Linked DNA regions of Homo sapiens. The protein of the gene in region 1 purifies or fractionates together with the protein of each later gene. This does not show direct contact. Each region holds a gene or a part of one and is shown in the gene's direction. Other genes may lie near its edges.

Region 1 (5,017 bases):
CTTAAATTTTACTGTGTGATAAGAAATCTGGTCCTGCCTTCTTTCTGTTTCCATTTCCCTGGTGTGATGCTCATTCTCTTTCTTCTTAAGCTTTCTTCTTTTACGTCATTTTGATTTTTGTCTATTTTAAGCATCATAATTGGATTTTTAATCCAATTGTGACTCAATTTACATTTATTATATGTGATACAGTCACAGATCTTCTAAAATTTTATTTTACATTAAAAAAATTCCAAGCTATTTTTCCACCCCCTTTCTTAACTTAAATGTAGTGTAAGAGTCCCTTGTTCTTTAGATAAAAGGGAAATTTTCTGCCCATTTTTTTCTACTAGTCTTCATTAACATTAAAAAATATAGTTGTGTTGGCCAGGCGCGGTGGCTCACGCCTGTAATCCCAGCACTTCAGGAGGCCAGGGCGGGTAGATCGTGAGGTCAGGAGATCGGCCATCCTGGCTAATATGGTGAAACCCCGTCTGTACTAAAAATACAAAAAATTAGCCAGGCGTGGTGGCGGGCACCTGTAGTCCCAGCTACTCGGGAGGCTGAGGCAGGAGAATGGCATGAACCCGGGAGGCAGAGCTTGCAGTGAGCCGAGATTGCACCACTGCACTCCAGCCTGAGCAACAGAACGATACTCTGTCTCAAAAAAAAAAAAAGTTGTGTCTATTTGTTCTTTCATAAATAATGAGAGATTTAGTATACTTTAATTCCTTCCTTCCTTCCTTTTTTTTTTTTTTTTTTCTGTCACCCAGGCTGGAGTGCAGTGGTACAATCTCATCTCACTGCAACCTCTGTCTCCTGGGTTCAAGTGATTCTTGTGCCTCAGCCTCCTGAGTAGCTGGGATTACAGGCACCTGCCACCACGCCCGGCTAATTTTGTATTTTTAGTAGAGACCAGGTTTCACCATGTTGGCCAGGCAGGTCTCAAACTCCTGATCTCAGGTGATCCACCCACCTCGGCCTCCCAAAGTGCTGGGATTACAGGTGTAAGCCACTGTGCCCAGCTTTAATTTCTTTTTTGTTGCCCATCTACCCCCACTAACTTTTTGCCTTAAAAACATTTTGGCTTTTAGATCCAGATTATTGTCTTTAAAAAAAAAAAAAAGTAATGCATGCTTTTGCTTTCCAGAATTATTTTTGACATTTATGTTTCCTAACCATACTAACAGCTGCTATCTAGACTGAGAGTTACATAGGTTACAATACTCAGTCCATTTCCTATGCTCAATCTTCATTTTTACTTATTCCTTGATTAGTTGGAATCTTTTTCAGGAAAGATAGTATATTCCGGTAGTTCTTGCTTGCCTAAGAACTTCTTTATGTTGCTGTTTCACAGTAACATCATCCTTTTGGGGCATACACTTCTTCATCTTAATCTTTTTACCTAAAAACTCCAAATATTATTCTTTTGTCTTCTGGCATTTTGTATGATGGAAGATAAGTTGTGGCCAACTTTATCAAAATAACTATGAAAGTCCACAAAAGTTTTGTTTCTTTCCCTTGTAATGACTACTTTATTTAAAAAAACCTTAAAATATATAAAACATAACACAGATATAGGAAAGGACATGAAACAAATGTGCAGTTTAGTGAAATATTATAAAGTGAATGCCCGTGTGACCACCATGCAGGTCAAGAAGCAGGACACAGCCAGCTCCCAGAGCCCAGTGCACCCTTGAACCACACCCTGCTTCCCCCTGGAGGTAACAACTCACCTTCCTTTTATGGTAACCATTTTCTTGCTTGCTTTTATAATTTTATAATCTAAATTTGCATCCTCAAACAAAGTACATCAGACTTGTTTCTCTGAAACTTTAAAAAATTAGAACTGTACCATTTGTATCTTATTCATTGTTATAACATCTCCATGGTGACTACTTTGATGCTTCAAAAAATATATATCAAATTTATTCCAAGAATATTTGGAGCCCTACTTTGCTTGGTGCTCTAAATTGGGGAATCCAGCACAGCCAAGAAGGAAGTGGTTTGTGTAAGACAGTGGTCAGTTTTAGACAAGACGAGTTTGAGGTGGGGATGGCCAGCAGAGAGGCAGACGTATGCATGTGTCATGGCTGGGACCCGAGATCTGAGTTGCAGGTTCAGGGTTATAAACACGCACGTGTAGGTTTCAAGATGGCACCATGGACCTAAATATTTGCCTTTCTTTTCTTCAAAGTGTCCAAAGACAAATATAGTAAGGAAAACATCGATTTGAGTTTTAGAGAAGAGAACAAACACTGGGCCTAGATTCTTTAAGGACTCTGTAAAAGTTAGAGTACAGATGGTGCCAGCCAATATCACCCAGCCCATGAGTATCAACAAGGGGCTTTCCTGGGAAGAAGCAGTGGTGTCCTCTCAGCTGAGTGCTAGTATCCCCAGGCTCAATGAAACAGGGCTAGATGGGCTGTGGTATGGTCAGTGGGGTGGGGATGAGGGATATAAATCTAAGGGCCGTGGGAAATCTATCAGCACTGCCACCTTGAGTGGCAGATCCCCATCTTAGTCTGCCTGTGTTGCTATGAAGGAATATCCAAGGCTGGGTAATTTATAGAGAAAAGGTTTACTTTTCTCATGATTCTACTGGCTGGAAGACTGGGCAGCTTGTGGAAGCCTCAGGCCACTTCCACTCCTGACAGAAAGCAAAGGGGAGCTGGCGTGTGCAGAGATCACATGGCAAGAGAGGAAGCAAGAGAGAGGGGAGGAGATGCCAGGCTCTTCTTAACAACCAGCTGTCATGGGAATGAAAAGAGTGAGAACTCACTCACTACTGCAAGAATGGCTCCAAGCCATTCATGAGGGATCCACCACCATGACCCAAACACCTCCCACCAGGTACCCCCTCCTTCAACATGGGCTTTGGAGGGATCAAATATCCAAACCACAGCACCCTCAGTTCCTCAGACATGTGCTGAGGGAGCTCCCAGTAAAGTGGGGATTTAATATATCCAGCTTCAAACAAGGTTGATTCTGATCACTTCACCAGATGCAGCTAAAAATAAAGATACAAAAGTATGTAAATAAACGCTATTCCACCCAGCAGTAAATACCTGTAATGTATTTGATCTAACATAGGGCCTCATCCTGCAAGCTTCCAGGGCAGGATCTGGAGGCCAGGGAGCTTAGGATCTAGGTACCTGAATACAAATTTCAGTGCTCCATTTAATGCCTGGAATGGTTTTCTCTGTGCCTTTTTTCCAGCTGTGAAGTGGCTGAAAAAAACTTTCTAAGCCAAGTAGTAAATCCCTGTGGCTTCTATCAGTAGCAGCTCTAAGGACCATTTGACATCCTTCACCCCATCCCCATGGCTCCCTGAATTGATGACAATTCTAGTAGTTTCCATGAGTCCAGGCTAGACTTTGGTTTCCATGTCGATGTTGCCTTCCATTCTGCCTGGGCTACTTTGCTTGGGTTCCTGTTTCATATGGCCACACTGCCCCTGGCTGAAACTCTGGATTACTTTAGAGTCCCCCCACCTTCTTCCCTGCTTCCAGCCCAGTCTTCCTCCATCCATAGTTTATTATTATTGTTTTTCTGAGACAAGGTCTCGCTCTGTTGCCCAGGCTGGAGTGCAGCAGTGCAATCATGGCTCACTGCAGCCTTAACCTCCTGGGCTCAAGCAATCCTCCCATCTCAACCTCCCAAGTAGCTGGGAGTACAGTGTATGCCAACATGCCTGGCTTATTTTTTTTAAAATTCTGGTAGAGACGAGGTCTCACTATGTTGCATAGTTGATCTTTTTAAAACAAAAATCTAATCTCATCATTTCTCTACCCTCCGGATAAAGCCCAAGCTCCTTACCTGCCTCAACTGCTTTTCCTCTTTTTCCTTTACGCTCTACCCTCTAGGTAGGCTGAACTACTCCATTTTTCTGAACATGCTTTCCCACCCTCCCAACCCTTCCAAAACAACTCTTTCCACCTCCTTATATGCCCTCTCCCCACCTTTTATCCAGCCAGTTAGTTCTTTTAGAAAGCCAATAAAATAGGCAAACTTCCAGAAAGCCTAATTAAGATACAAAGGCAAAAAAATTCACAAAGCTAGAAATGACATATGGAGCAGCATGGAGAAAAGATGTAAAATCTCAAGAACATTGTGCATTATTGTATCCCATCATCTGTGAAAATCTTGATGAAATGGACTATTTCCACTGAAAATATGCATTACCAATATTTACTCAAGAAACAGAATGTCATGTTCCCAGATGGGAAGAACCGATGTTATAAAGATGTCGATCCCTCACAGTTCCTGCCGCGTGAATGGCAGCCTCCCTGGTAACCAGAAGTGATGGAGATTTGTTCCTATTTTTACGTTCCTTCGGTAATTTTCTGTGGAATTTTGAAAGGGTCGTTAAATGTTTGTGCTTGATTGTGAATCATTTTATTGAAGGGAAAATCAATACAAGGGCATTTGAATGTTATTTTTAAATTGTTTTTCTCAAAGAACAAATGAAGTTATTAAACTTTGAAATGCATGGAGGCTTTATGAAACAATTTCATTTAACAATGGATGTGATTTTCTGCTTGTGTTATTTTATTGAGTATGAATTTTATCATGTTTGCTTTCTTTACTCGGCATGGAGTCTCCATAAGAATATCTAGGGGTTTACTTTCAAAAATCTACCGTGAAAAGACAGGACAGGAAAAGTGAGGGCGGGTTTGATTCTTTCCTGCTTTCCTCATGTCAGATGGCAGAGCATCCATACTGATTATCTCAGCATCCCTTTTTTTAGAATTTATTCTCCTTCCCTCTTAACACCATATTTCTCTTAAATCTTTCCAACACCCTCATTTGTGTCTTAAATTAGCTACGTCTGTTACCATAGTTATGCAGTATCCAGCTTAACCATTCCACACTCATTCCCACCATACTGTGTGTGAGACTTCCTCTCTCTTATTTCATAAAATATATCATTATTTTTCTTTATTCGTCTCCTGTCCCCAAACTTTTAGTTTTTAAGGCAACACTTGTTCATACTTAATGAATCAAATAGGACTGAAGGGCTTCTAATAAAAGGCAA
Region 2 (5,017 bases), on another chromosome or scaffold:
GAGTGAACTACTTGTACATGCAGCAACATGGTTGAATCTCAGAAACATTATTTTGACTGAAAGAAGCCACACACAAAATAGTACAATCTGTATTACTCCATTTATATGGAATTTAAAAAATATACAAAATTCGTCTATGATGATTGAAATTAGAATGGTAGAGAGGTTGGGAATTGGCTAGCAAGTGTTAAGAGGGAACTTTCTGGAGGGATATAAGTGTTCAGTATCTTAATTGAAGTAGTGACTATGTGGAAATATACACTTATCAAATTTCATCAAATAGTTCATATAAGATACATGTATTTCATTGTATGTAAATTTTTATCACAATTGAAAATACATTACCTGGCATAATGGTACTTTTCTCTGAAGTTAGATATAATGAGAATTAGAAAGTGCTGCGTTTTCATTTTAAGCTCATTTAATATGTGCATATAATGCCTTGATTCAAAATTCAAATGTAGAAAACAAATTTTGAATTCTTCTGATTAGTAGAAAAATTTTAAAAATGTCTCTTGGTTTTAGTTTTTTAAAGTAAAATTTGAATACTGAATTATGTGCCAGTTACTGTAATATGCATTTTACATGTGCTATTTTACTTAATCTCCAAACATACTCAGTGATTAGTTCTATTTTTCCTTGGAACAGAACAGAAGTAGGAACAGAAGCATCAAGAGGAAATAGAAACACCAAGTGTTCAATTAATATTCCCAAATTATTATGGAAAGAGTCCTAAGCCAGAAGTTACTGAGTTTTACATCTGAATTTTCTAATATTTTATTTTCTTGAATGTCATTTTACTATACCTGTTTAATAATTCTATTAAATCTATTTCAAGGGTATTTTAATGAGCTACTTTTCATGATATTTTCTTTTATTAAATAACTTTAATTTTTTCAAGGAGCAACTGTGGTGACAGCTGCTGTGGTAGAAGTACATTCACGTGCCTTACTAGTTAAGACAACACTAAACATAAGCTTCAAAACTGATGATCTCACCATGGTGCTGTATAGTCCAGGTCCTAAACAGGTAAGTCCAGGAAGAAAAGAAAATGTATTTTCACATGTGAAATTTGCATAGGTTGATGTTTTTAAAGTAACAAATGTTAATATTTAACATTTATTTTGTAGTATCTGTCCCTCTGAGAAAAATGATCTTTTTACTTTAATAATAATTATAACTATTTCCCTTTTAAATGAGTTATCTATCATATAGCTAATGTGAAAAATAAATTGTAAAATTAAAGTGATATGTATATATTTTTAGCCTTTCATTAGAGCCCTTCGGAGACAGAATTTTGATGTTTGTTATAAGCAGAGGCAATAATTTGTAGTAGTTCATATCATGAAATACACTTTAGACTTGTGTTTCTTTGTAATTTTGTGTTGGTTTCTCCTTTCATAGGCTTCCTTTACAGATGTTCGTGATCCTTCTCTGAAACTTGCTGAATTTAAATTGGAGAATATTATAAGTACTTTAAAAATGTATACAGATGGCTCAACATTTTCTTCCTTCTCATTAAAAAACTGTATTTTAGATGATAAAAGACCTCATGTCAAGAAAGCAACTCCTCGGTATGTATTGTAATGATGTTCTAAGGTTTTACTTGAGAAATCGTTGATATATTTTACAGAATTCATCTCCAGAATTGCACGTTCATTTTCTGAGTGCATCCTAGGTTCTTTAAAGCTTCAATTCAGTCAGCTCGTAGTACTCGGTTAACATTTAAAATGTCCTGGTTCTGTTATGTACTATTCTTACTGGATAATTGATAGATTGGTTGAGTAACTAGAAATAATCAGTGCAATTAAATTGGTTTTTACATTCTTTAAATTACATTCTCTAATATAAATCTAATATAAGTTATTGTTAATCCATGCTAATTGCAATGGGAAGTACATAAAAAATTGAAAAGAAAAAATATCCTGAGATTCAAACTCTTATAATTTATTGAACATACACTTCCTCATTTATGATACATTTGTGTTCCAGAAGTTTGTAAGTTTGTTATTTGGAACACTTTATGGATCTTCCCAAGAGACATGACTTCAGAATGCTTTTTTTTGTCAGTAAAAGAGATAAGAGGTCTTTGAGTTTTACTCATATGTTTGATTACTTCTAAGTTACTCATACATAGGAATTGTTGTTATTGTGTTTTCCAGAATGATAGGACTGACAGTTGGTTTTGACAAAAAAGACATGATGGATATAAAGTACAGGAAAGTCAGAGATGGTTGTGTGACTGATGCGGTCTTTCAAGAAATGTATATTTGTGCAAGCGTAGAATTTCTGCAGACTGTTGCAAATGTCTTTCTTGAGGCCTACACCACAGGCACTGCTGTAGAAACCAGTGTGCAAACATGGACTGCTAAGGAAGAAGGTTAGTTATTGGCTAAAATATTTAATATTTGTTTTATTGAAGTGCTACAACAGGACTTAACCTTGATTAGCCTTTTAGATCATCAAAGTAAATGCTTTAAGAAATTAAAATTTTATTTTTCAGAGTAGAAGGAAAACCTTAATGTGTTTTCTTGGAGGATGTATAGTTTGCATTTTTTAAAGGTGTCAGTATATATTGCATTTAAAAATTATGAAACCTATGTTAGAATAAGTAATTGTACTTCTCTTCAGGCAGTAATTTGAAGGAATTTGTCTAGTGGAAAAAAACAAGCAGAGCAAATAATGAACCAACCATACCTTTTCACAATTAAGATAATATTTCAATTTAAAGCACTCATTTATTTTTGTTGTATTTATTCCTAGCTTTTAACGTACGGTTTCTCTATTATCTTTTTATAATATGTGATTTACTGTGGTATAGTAGAAAGAGTATCAAGTTGAGAGTTAGAAACTAGATTAGTTTCTAGGCTTTCCAATTAAATAGTGGAGATTTCCCCTCATTTAAAAATGTTCTTATGCCTATAGCTTCTTCAAGTCTTTACTAAGGGTTGTAGTTGATTCCTTTGGGATCTAAGATTCTTTTGTTTTACTTTTTACTATTATTTCATTTTAATATTTTCTTATAAATAATAAATTATTCATAATATATAGCAAATATTTTAATCTATTTTTATTTGTTTTAGTACCTACACAGGAATCAGTGAAGTGGGAAATTAATGTTATTATTAAAAATCCTGAAATTGTGTTTGTAGCTGACATGACAAAAAATGATGCTCCTGCTTTAGTCATTACAACACAATGTGAAATTTGCTATAAAGGTAACCTTGAAAATAGTACAATGACTGCTGCCATTAAAGATCTCCAAGTGAGAGCCTGCCCGTTTCTTCCAGTCAAGAGAAAAGGCAAAATCACTACTGTGAGTTAACTATTTGATCATCTGCTTAATTGTAACTATTTTGGATGTAGTGTATACCATTTTAGGAAACAAAAACTACCTACATGCTTTCCAACCTTGCTCTGTAAAATGTCTTTCTCTCTGCTTAGAGAGCTTAATTTAGAATATTATTTACCAGCTTTGAAACTCTTTCATTCTTCCAGATGCTGCTCATTATTGTTAGTATTTGTGGGAATATTGTCACTAAGAAGTTGGGTTCATCTTGACAGTTTTCAGTTAAGATCTACTTTGACTTTCTAACCATGTCAATTCCAAATTGCTCTTTGGACTTTTAAGACTTTCTGCCAGTTGTTTGCTGTGTTGTTTCAATTTTATTGTTTCAACTTTTTTCTCCCGTTTGGATGTTTTTGCTCAAATAATGAGTTTTTCCTTGTCTCCATGTAACTTCATTTGAACCTTCAGCCATTTGCTTTGACATACTTCACATTGATATTTTACTCTCTAGTAACCTCTTGGCCTTCCTCCTCTTCATAACTCTACTTAAAATTCATTCCTTTACAGACATCTTTTCAAGTTAACTGGCTGACTTCCAGCGAATACTTACAAAAATATTTGAGCTTCTGAAGGAGTAATAGAAGCATAAGTTTTTGTTTGTTTCTTTGTATTTTTTTCCTGATGCTTGGTATGCATCTATAGAAGCATAAATGTTCTAAACATTGTCACCATAGAAATATAAGATGTAATTTTGATACAATGAATACATATATATTAGGATATAAGATAAACTGTTGCCCAAATTTGCAAGACAGTTGGCCCTCCACTAAGCAAAGAGAGAGAATAGAAAATGGAGGGTATACCAATTCTCTCTTAGTTTTTGACTTAGAAGTTTTAAATATATATTTCTTCTATTCACATCTTTTTTGGCTTGAATATAGCTGTATGACCACACTTTACTTCAGTAAAGGTTGGAGACTGTGGTATTTTTTTCTGAGCTACCTTGTGCTCAGATAAAACTTCTATTACTGTGGAAGAATAGAACAGATATTAGGTTCTAGATGTCCTTTATATGGGATAATTAAGGAGTGTATTATTAAGTCACTTTTTAAATAGTTGTTTTTATTAACTTGTTTATTTGACATACCTATTACTAGGAAAGTCTTTAAATAGAAATATTTTTATATTTAAACATTAATTTAGTGGTATTGATTTTTCTCTCATAGGTTTTGCAGCCCTGTGACTTGTTTTATCAAACTACTCAGAAAGGTACAGATCCACAAGTGATCGATATGTCAGTAAAATCCCTGACACTAAAGGTAAATTAAAATATAATCATTTGAATATTTAGTGCACTTAAAAAAAGTAGTAAAGCCTAGAAAGTTATTATAGCAAGTCTTTTAATTGTTATGCAAACAAAATAGGTGTGTTTTTGAAAATACGTTTTTATGAGATATTTACAAAGTAATATTATTTAATACACATTTTATGAATGTTATTCTATATTTTATTATTTACATTTGTGTGGTTAACATCTAATATCCCTAATAAATATTATTGAAATTACTTTATACTTCATCAGTTTAATAATATCTGCAATTCATGTATATTAATAATATCATGTAATTCATGGAATAATATCTGCAAGATTCATGTAAATATCTGCAAGATTCATGTAAACACATAACAAGAATTATGGTAATTTAAAAAATTTTATAAACAATAAAT
Region 3 (5,017 bases), on another chromosome or scaffold:
TAAGCATTTCTACTTGGATGTCATGTTAGTCTCAAATCCCTCATATTCCAAAACAAGCTTCCTCCCATAAACTTATCTGTTTTGTCATTAATTCCACTATTGTCCCTGTCGCTAAACTGAAATTTTTGTTGTGAACTTTTTTGACAGTGTTAGTCCACACATTGGGTTATTACAGCAGATTTTGGGTAGCATTTTCGAATCTGGATTATTGCTGTCTAATCCCCTGTATGCCTTGCCAGTTGAATTGATCTGTTTTGGGGGTATATTACTCTTGGAATGAAAAGACCTGAGGTCATTAAATCTTTGAGCCTTAAAGTTGTATCTCTGCCAGTGTTCCTAGTTTGTGAGTTAATAGGTGTTATTAGTATCAATTGCATATCTGGTTAGTTTGGACCAGACTTTTTTGGATGTTAGTATGTTGCAGGAACTTCTTTTAAAAAAACAAGTTACTCTCCTAATTCATTTTTATTCATTCAGCAAATCTTTGTATAGGGCCTAAACTTGGATTGAAATCTAGGCTCTGACATGTATTTGCTGAAATATTTTAGGGAGTTATTTTAACCTCTCAATGCTGTTTCATCTTCAGAAAAATAAGAGGGGATAAAAGTACTAGATTGTTGTAAGAATTGAATAATATAGTCAAAGCAACTATCATAGCATTTGGTATTTAGTAAGCATTTGTAATATTGTCATATTTATAATATTTCTGTTATATACTAGTCAGTGTGCTTAGTCTAGAAGTTGATATTTATTGTCGTCTCTAAGTACAGAGTAATTTATCTGGCACCTCAAGCCGCTCATAAATTCATAATCTAGCTGTGCGTTATTGACGTCTAAGCCAATTGTAACTGAAAATTGAGACATTTATTAATAGATTCAATAAATGGGGAAGATCTTTTAGAGACTGTTTATTTGTTTAGTTGTGATTTATAATATGGTATATACTTTGTGCCAAGGGTTTAGTTGGATATAAAAGGCAATTGGGAACTAATTTATGGAGATTGAGTTGTTATCTTGTTCTCTTTCTGTGTGTATCTTTTATACTTTCAGTGTGTGTTCTGTAAATAGGCCCTCTTGCACTACAGGCACCCTGTGGGTGTGTAGAGACGTGGCTCAGAGTAACGGCTGAGATATGAATTGGTTAATTCATTAATCTTTTGAGTCAGAAATGTTTTTTTTCCGCCCAGTCCGAAGTGCCGTGGCGCTATCTTGGCTTACTGCAAGCTCCACCTCCTGGGTTCACGCCATTCTCCTGCCTCAGCCTCCTGAGTAGCTGGGACTACAGGCGCCCGCCACCGCACCCGGCTAATTTTTTGTATTTTTAGTAGAGACAGGGTTTCACCGTGTTAGCCAGGATGGTCTCGATCTCCTGGCCTCGTGATCCGCCCGCCTCAGCCTCCCACAGTGCTGGGATTACAGGCATGAGCGCCGCACCCTGCCCAGAAATGTTTTTAATCCAGAAGAAGGAACTACATATAAAATTTTATGTTGAATAAAGAGTAAATTCTCAGTTTTAGATTAGACTTTGCATAACTTTACACCAGTTTTGCTTCACGATTATAAGTTTTGGTGTTATGGATATATGGTGAAAACTACAGATTCTATTACGATAATTGATAGAAAAACCCACTTATCAGGAAATATTATATATAGAGTTCTATTGCTGAAGATAATCCAATAGCTCTACTTCTCCATTCCTCATCCCCACTAAAAAGGGGGTATATCCATTTAGTTTAAGTCCACAGTATAGCTGTTGGATACGACACACATGTGTTCAAGAAGATGAACAGGTAGTACTGCAATTCACAATGGAAAGTATTCTTAAAAATATGCCATTAGTGTGGTGTGAAAAGAACACTGGACTGAAAATTCAGAGCATAGTCTTGTTTTGCTATTAAATCTCTGTGTAATGAAGTACATCATTTTTCTCATCTAGGCTTCAGTTTCCCTATTTGTAGAACAAAGAGTTGGACCAGATAGTTGCTGATGTCTCTTGTGTCTCTGAAAATTCTATGATAGGCCTGGCATGGTGGTCTGTAATCCCAGCACTTTTGGAGGCCAAGGTGCAAGTATCCCTTGAGCCCAGGAGTTTGAGACCGGCCTGGGCAACAGAGAGGGACCTCGGCTCTACAAAAAAAATAAAAATATTACCTGGGTGTAGTCTCAGCTACTTGGGAGGTTGAGGTAGGAAGATCGCTTGAGCCCAGGAGATTGAGGCTGCAGTGAGCCATGTTGGTGCCACGGCACTCTAGCCTGGTTGTCAAAGTGAGACTCTGTCTCAAAAAAAAAAAATAATAAAATAAAATTTATTAAACAAAATCTATGAGACTTTGTTTATTACACTTCAATTAAAACTTCAAAAAATTGTCTTTGATTTATTATTTAAGAAATAAAACTTAAACAGTTAAATGATGTTGGGGTAGAAATGTAAGACTGTCAACCATCTTTAGTAAGTGCTTTTTTTGGAACTAGTTCCTAAATTAATTTCAATAGTTATATTTGCCATTATTTTTTGAATTTGTGACTTACGTTCATAATTGTAGGGGTTTGTACTTTCTGAACATAGGAAGTGTAATTTTTTATTTGTATATCTATTAAAATGTAAAGATATGATTTTCTTCTCTAGTATACTTGCCCTCTCTGTTTGGGATTATGAAATATAGAGTGTATTTTTATTACAGTTCCTAAACAATTAATAGGAAGGTAGATGTTCAAATTAACGTCCAAAGTCTGATATCTCAGGGAGGTGAGAGTTTATCTTATACTTGTGTTATATTAAGGGTAGGCCAACCTGTGCCCCTCTTAATTGATCCATACTTCTGATACCAGATTTTTGGCAAGAAATTGAAAATTTTCTCAGATTGTTGTCTTGAACTACTTTTTTTTTTTTTGAGACAGGGTCTGGCCCTGTCACCCAGGCTGAAGTGTGGTGGCATGATCTCAGCTCACTGAAGCCTCCACTTCCCGAGCTGAAGCCATTCTTCTGCCTCAGCCTCTTGAGTAACTGGGACTACAGGCAAGCGCCACCATGCCTGGCTAATTTTTGTATTTTTTTTGGTAGAGATGGGGTTTTGCCATGTTGCCCAGGCTGGTCTCAAGTGAGCCATTGGCCTCAGCTTCCCAAAGTGTAAGGATTACAGGCGTGAGCCACAGCACCCAGCCCTCAAACTAATTTTGAAACAGTGGACTGCAATTAACTTTCCTTTTTCTCTTTTCTGTTATTCATTCATTCATTTGACAAATGTTTATTTGGTGTGTACTGTGTGCTAGGAATTCTGCTATGCAATGGAACACCATGGTGAGTAAAAACAAACATGTCCCACTTTCATGGAATTTATAGTGTCAGGAAAAGGATTAATTAAATGTCTATCACACTAAGATAGGAGTGGGGTATGGTGAAGGGCAGGTAAGAGATATGATCATGACTTTCCTTTAAGGTTTGGTTTACTTGTAGTAAAGCAATTAAGTGTATAGTTTTCAGATATGAGGCTGTAGATTGTATCAGATTCACTTGAGGCACTTGTTAAAAATGGAATCTGGGATCTTGCGTAGACAAACAAAATCACAATTTTTTGGGATGATTCTTAGGATTTGCATGAGATGTGGATTCTTAGACACACTCAAGTTTGAAAACTGTAGTTACAGTGGAAAGAATGTGAATTTTCATTCTGTTTGGTAATTTTATGATAAAAATTTCAAATATACGCAGAAGTAGGGAAAATAGGATAGTGAACTCCTGTTACTCAGATTTTGCAGTTTTCAAAATGTCATCACATTTGATTTCATTAATCACCCTTTTTCTTACCAAAATATTTTAAAGTAAATTCCATATATTGTCATTTCATCCTTACATACTTCAATAAGCATCTTTGAAAAAAAAAAAGGACATTTTCTTACATAATCATAATGGCCATTATCATGCCTAGCAAAATTAAAAGTGCTTTGGTATCATTAATTCCCAGTTTATATTCATATTTCTGATTGTCTAAAACAGTGTCTATTTTACAGTTGCTTTATTAGAATCTGGATCCAAAGTCCAAATGTTGCTTTTCTTTGGTTAGGTCCTTTAAGAGTCTTTTAAGTCTCTTAATATAGAGAAATCTCATTCCCCCAACTTCTCCAACTCCCCTTCCCCTGCATGTTGAAGGAACTAGGTCAGTGGTACTATACAGGACCTTGTTTTACATTCTGGATTTTTCTTTTTACTTTCCTAATGATGTAATTTAACTTCTTCCTGTATTTTCCATATTTCCTATAAAATGGTAGTTAGATCTAAAAGCTTGATTTACTTATTTCAGATTTCTAGTCAAGGGTACTCAATAGATTGTATTTTCTTTTGCCTCACACGGAGGTGCATAATGTCTGCCTGGCCTGTAGTGATGCTAAGGTTGATCATTCTGTTCAGGTGGCATCAGTCTGTGATAGCTTCCTGTAAGAATCGTTCATTAACCTTTCATCTAATGGTTCCATTCATTCATGATCTTTAACTGAATCCCTGTTATTTCATTAGGGAATAGCAAAATAATGATTTTCTAATTCTGTTATTCCTTTCACATTTATTAACTGTAATTCCTCTGTTAAGAGTAGAACTTTTACATATTAATATCAACTAGGGCTGTATGTTTACCATGAAATCCAATTCATGAAATACAGGATGAATACTTCAATCTTTTCCTTAATTGCCACTTGTTATAGCAAGGTATTTTGGAGACTTATTATGATAGATATGCCACAAACTGGGTAACTTGAGGGGAGTTTAAGTAAAGGACTGTTTACAAAGGTATAGATAATATTTAAGGAAACTGGTAGGGATGGTACAGTGCTCTGTGACTAGTCACAGTGAGGAAGGGAGTTGCGATCGCCTCAAGGCCAGCAGGAAACAGGGAAGAGGAAAGCAGCTGAGGAGGGTAGCTCTATGGAAGAGGTCTGTCTGATGGGGAGTGTGCTTTCAAGTAAAGAGGAGCTTGTGGATCAAGTATTAAGGGAGACAGAGGAATATATCCCCTACCCTTATTCT
Region 4 (5,017 bases), on another chromosome or scaffold:
CCTTGCATTTCAGACCCGTGGTCTTGCCTACACCAGCAAAGTTCTCAACCGTACAGTCTCTGGGCCAGACTCAACCAACAAACATGTTTTCTTTGGCGTGAACTTTATTTTTTTTTTATGTGAAATGCTGGACAATTGATTCCATGTAAACATCCGGGAGGTCCTCTTGAAAATAAAATTCCAAAATGTGTCAACATTTGGCTCAACTTCCCTGACAAAAGTCATCTGGGACCAATAGCTCCTGTCTTTTCCATGAATCGTTAAGCTCCTCTTCTCATCCAGGCCCTCTTCTCAGGCCTCCTGGAACCCTCTGGACATTCTTTTGGAATTTTGTTTTTCTTTTGGGGGGAAGCTTTCCAACTTGCACAGAATAATTAGCATTTATTTTGAACTCCTGTTTACCCATCACTGTGCCTCAACCATCATCAACATTTATCCCAGCGCTGTTTCCTTCTGTATTTTCTTTGGAGTAATTTAAACAAATCCTGGATGTCACAGTATTTTCCTATAAATATTTGAATCCTTTCTTCTAACAGATAAGGGCTCATTTTGTTACAAAACTACCATGGTCTGTTACCACACTTAACATTAAGTCATTCTTTTTGTTTTTTGTTTGTTTGTTTGAGACAGGATCTTACTCTGTCGCCCAGGCTAGCATTCAGTAGCGTTCATAGCTCACTGCAGCCTGAAACTCCTGGACCCAAGCAATCCTCCCACCCCAGCCTCCTGACTAGCTGAGACTACAAGTGTGCATCATCATGACTGGCAAATTTTTTACTTTTATTTTTGTAGAGATGGGGTCTTGCTGTGTAGGTCCAGACTAGTCTCAAACTCCTCAGCTCAAGCAATCCTCCCGTCTCAGCGTGGGAAAGTGCAGGGATTACAGATGTGAGCTACCATGCCCGGCCAACAATCATTCTTTAATGTCATCTGATGCCCAGTTCATGTTCAAATATCCCTGACTTTCTCACAGATGTCTCTCTCCCTGTGGGCGTTTGAGTTTGGAACTTCTAAGTAACTTTTTTGCTTTAAAGAGAAAGGAGAAGCCAGGCACAGTGGCTCATGCTTGTAATCCCAGCACTTTGGGAGGCCGAGGCGAGTGGATCACCTGAGGCCAGGAGTTCGAGACCAGCCTGGCCAACATGGTAAAAACCCATCTCTACTAGAAATATATAAATTAGCTGGGCATGGTGGCGGCCGCCTGTAATCCCAGCTACTTGGGAGGCTGAGGTAGGAGAATCACGTGAACCCAGGAGGCGGAGGTTGCAGTGAGCTGAGATCGCACCATTGCACTCCAGCCTGGGAGACAAGAGCAAGACTCCATCTCAAAAAAAAAAAAGAAAGAAGGGCCAGTAAGAGAAAAATCAGGAATATGTGACATCAGAGATGCTAGGGGAGTCTGTAGAAGGAGCAAGTGAGCAGTGTGCTTTGGATTTAGCATCAGGGAAGACGTGACCAGGATGAGAAAGAAATATGGAGGAGAAGTCCGGGCGCAGTGGCTCACGCCTGTAATCTCAGCACTTTGGGAGGCCGAGGCGGGCGGATCACGAGGTCAGGAGATCAAGACCATCCTGGCTAACACAGTGAAACCCCATCTCTACTAAAAATACAAAAAAATTAGCCAGGCGTGGTGGCAGGCGCATGTAGTCCCAGCTACTCGGGAGCCTGAGGCAGGAGAATGGCGTGAATCCAGGAGGCGGACCTTGCAGTGAGCAGAGATCGCGCCACTGCACTCCAGCCTGGGTGACAGAGCAAGACTCTGTCTCAAACAAAAAAAAAAAAAAGAAAGAAAGAAATATGGAGGAGATGTGGTGAGTGAGATGTGGTAAAAAAATTTTTTTTCTTTGAGACAGAGCCTTGCTCTGTTACTCAGGCTGGAGTGCAGTGGCGTGATCTTGGCTTACTACAGCCTCTACCTCCTGGGCTCAAGTGATCCTCCCACCTCAGACTCCCAGGTAGCTGGGACTACAGGCACTCACCACCACACCCGGCTAACTTTTTGTATTTTTTGTAGAGATGAGCTTTCACCATGTTGCCCAGGCTGGTCTTGAATGCCTAGGCTCAGACCACCTCGGCCTCCCAAAGTGGACTCCAAATAGGTGCCACTGTTGTGGCACCAGCCCAAGGACTCAGTTGAGACCCTAATTGAATGAATTAAAGATGTTGACACATCCATAATCCCAGCACTTTGGGAGGCCAAGGCGTGCAGATCACTTGAGGTCAGGAGTTCAAGACCAGCCTGACCAACATGGTGAAACCCCGTCTCTACTAAAAATACAAAAACAAAACTAGCCGCATGTGGTGGCGGGCGCCTGTAGTCCCAGCTACTCAGGAGATTGAGGCGGGAGAATAGCGTGAACCCAGGAGGCGGAGCTTGCAGTGAGCTGAGATCATGCCACTGCACTCCAGCCTGGGTGACAGAGCAAGACTCAGTCTCAAAAAAAAAAAATGAAAAAATGTTCTAGAACTAGAGTGGTGATGGTTACACAACACTGTAAATGCACAGAATGCCACTAAACTGCTGAACTATACACTTTGAAATGCTCTATTTTACCACAAACTTTTTTTTTAAAGCAATAGGAGGAAAAGAATTAGCTGATGGGGCAGAGGGAGACAGACGTCCCCTCCTAGAGGATTCTGGGTAGGGGTTGAACTGCCCCAGCTCCTCCCGAACCCCTTTCCAAACTGTCTCTACCTCCCCCAGGCCTGGCTGGACACCCAGGACCGGTGCTTGGGCCACTATGTGAATGGGAAGTGGTTAAAGCCTGAACACAGAAATTCAGTGCCTTGCCAGGATCCCATCACAGGTACGAGATGTCCCCCAGTCATTAGTGGAAGGGAGGTATCTGTGCCCTCTAGCCCTACCCACCAACACCCATTCCCCTTGCCTAGGGCCCTGAGGGCAGGAAACAGCTGGTGGTGGGAGATGGGCTGCGATGTCTGGTTCCTTCTGAAACCAGTCACCCTAATTATGGTTCCGGGTCTCTGTGGAGGCTTTGTGAGACTGCTGTCTGTTAAAATAGCTTCCTTGCCCTGGAGGTGATCATAGCCGTGACCCAGCAGAGAATGGGGACCAGCTTTACACTCTTGGGCTGATCCAGGCTCCGAAAATCTCAGCCCCCTCCAGATATGACATGGGCTACTCCTCCCATCTGAGTCCCCCCACTTTTCTCCCCAGGAGAGAACTTGGCCAGTTGCCTGCAGGCACAGGCCGAGGATGTGGCTGCAGCCGTGGAGGCAGCCAGGATGGCATTTAAGGGCTGGAGTGCGCACCCCGGCGTCGTCCGGGCCCAGCACCTGACCAGGTGATGCAGCTGAGGTGTGGACCCCGGGAGGCGGGGAACCCCAGCATCCACTCGAGACCATGGGAACAAAGGCTATTTCCCAAGATCCCACTGAATTAATTTGCAGCTAAGGCTCAGATTCCCAGTATGTGCTGGAGGCAGTCGTGGCTGAAACATGCATCCGTTGTCCACTATTCACTGGGACTAGAAGCCACAAAGCCTCTATTTCCCAGGACATTCTTGGAGTGCATTGGGGCTCAGTTCACTGGGGCTGGTGAAGCCCCTAAATCCATTTCCTAGCCGCTTGCGGGGAAGCTAGAGACAAAAATTCCATTTCCCAAAACGCAATTGAGGTTAGAAGCTAAGACTCAATTTCCCAAAAGCTTCAGGGATTTCCGGCGGCCAAGACCTTTACACAGCATCCTCAGGGTTTGTGTTTCCATGACTATAATTCTCATAAATCTTCACTGCCCTCTGCCCCAGGTAAATGGTGGGGATGCCTCAGGGGCTCATGGGGATTGTAGTCCAGGTATATAGGAGCAGCCCAGGACTCTGCAAGGCTGAGGGCCGTTGGAAAATGAGCACCCTCTTGCTTTCTCGACAGGCTGGCCGAGGTGATCCAGAAGCACCAGCGGCTGCTGTGGACCCTGGAATCCCTGGTGACTGGGCGGGCTGTTCGAGAGGTTCGAGACGGGGACGTCCAGCTGGCCCAGCAGCTGCTCCACTACCATGCAATCCAGGCATCCACCCAGGAGGAGGCACTGGCAGGCTGGGAGCCCATGGGTGAGACCCTGGAGTCCCTAGCCCTATCCTCCCACATGACTCAGCAGTGCTAGCTCCAGTCCCCTCATTCTTTTTCTTTTAGACAGAGTTTCGCTCTTGTCGCCCAGGCCGGAGTGCAGTGGCGCAATCTTGGCTCACTATAACCTCCGCCTCCCGGGTTCAAGTGATTCTCCTGCCTCAGCCTCCTGAGTAGCTGGAATTACAGGCACCCACCACCACACCTGGCTAATTGTTATATTTTTATTAGAGAAGAGGGGTCTCATCATGTTGGTCAGGCTGGTCTCAAACTCCTAACCTCAGATGATTCACCTGCCTTGGCATCCCAAAGTGCTGGGATTACAGGCATGAGCCACCGTGCCCGGTCCCCTCATTCTTTTTCTTTTGTTTTTGTTTTTGTTTTTTTCTTTTTCAGACAGGGTCTTTCTCTGTCACCCTGGCTGGAGTACAGTGGTGCAATTATAGCTCACTGATACCTCGACCTCCTGGGCTCAAAATCCTCCCACCTCAGCCTCCCAAGTAACTGGGACTACGACCATGCACCACCACACCTGACTAGTTTTTGTTTTTGTTTTTTTTTTTTTTGAGATGGAGTTTCGCTCTTTGTTGCCCAGGCTGGAGTGCAGTGGTGCGATCTCGGCTCACTGGAACCTCCGCCTCCCGTGTTCAAGTGATTCTCCTGCCTCAGCCTCCCGAGTAGCTGGGACTACAGGCATGCACCACCACGCCTGGCTAATTTTGTGTTTTTAGTGGAGATGGGGTTTTTCCATGTTGGTCAGGCTGGTCTCGAACTTCCCACCTCAGGTGATCCGCCCACCTCGACCTCCCAAAGTGCTGAGATTACAGGCGTGAGCCACCACACCCGGCCATTTTTTTTTTTTTTTCCTAATGTAGCCATGGGGTCTTGCCATGTGGCCCAGGCTGGACTTAAACACCTAGCCTCAAGGGATCCT

The links.
Region 2: the proteins of ADD2 (region 1) and VPS13A purify together in Homo sapiens (affinity purification with western blotting; one study listed by BioGRID). This does not show direct contact.
Region 3: the proteins of ADD2 (region 1) and ROCK1 purify together in Homo sapiens (affinity purification with mass spectrometry; 2 studies listed by BioGRID and IntAct, with this or other methods). This does not show direct contact.
Region 4: the proteins of ADD2 (region 1) and ALDH16A1 purify together in Homo sapiens (affinity purification with mass spectrometry; one large-scale study listed by BioGRID and IntAct). This does not show direct contact.

What each region holds. Positions count from the first base shown.
Region 1 is NC_000002.12:70,757,316-70,762,332, reverse strand, and holds part of ADD2 (beta-adducin), read left to right. Parts: intron 1-5,017. UniProt on the Homo sapiens protein: Membrane-cytoskeleton-associated protein that promotes the assembly of the spectrin-actin network. Binds to the erythrocyte membrane receptor SLC2A1/GLUT1 and may therefore provide a link between the spectrin cytoskeleton to the plasma membrane.
Region 2 is NC_000009.12:77,313,091-77,318,107, forward strand, and holds part of VPS13A (intermembrane lipid transfer protein VPS13A), read left to right. Parts: intron 1-901; coding exon 902-1,029; intron 1,030-1,404; coding exon 1,405-1,574; intron 1,575-2,162; coding exon 2,163-2,380; intron 2,381-3,083; coding exon 3,084-3,316; intron 3,317-4,515; coding exon 4,516-4,608; intron 4,609-5,017. UniProt on the Homo sapiens protein: Mediates the transfer of lipids between membranes at organelle contact sites. Binds phospholipids. Required for the formation or stabilization of ER-mitochondria contact sites which enable transfer of lipids between the ER and mitochondria.
Region 3 is NC_000018.10:21,100,740-21,105,756, reverse strand, and holds part of ROCK1 (rho-associated protein kinase 1), read left to right. Parts: intron 1-5,017. UniProt on the Homo sapiens protein: Protein kinase which is a key regulator of the actin cytoskeleton and cell polarity.
Region 4 is NC_000019.10:49,455,782-49,460,798, forward strand, and holds part of ALDH16A1 (aldehyde dehydrogenase family 16 member A1), read left to right. Parts: intron 1-1,034; exon of another isoform or gene 1,035-1,142; coding exon of another isoform or gene 1,143-1,145; intron 1,146-2,704; coding exon 2,705-2,807; intron 2,808-3,178; coding exon 3,179-3,305; intron 3,306-3,888; coding exon 3,889-4,067; intron 4,068-5,017.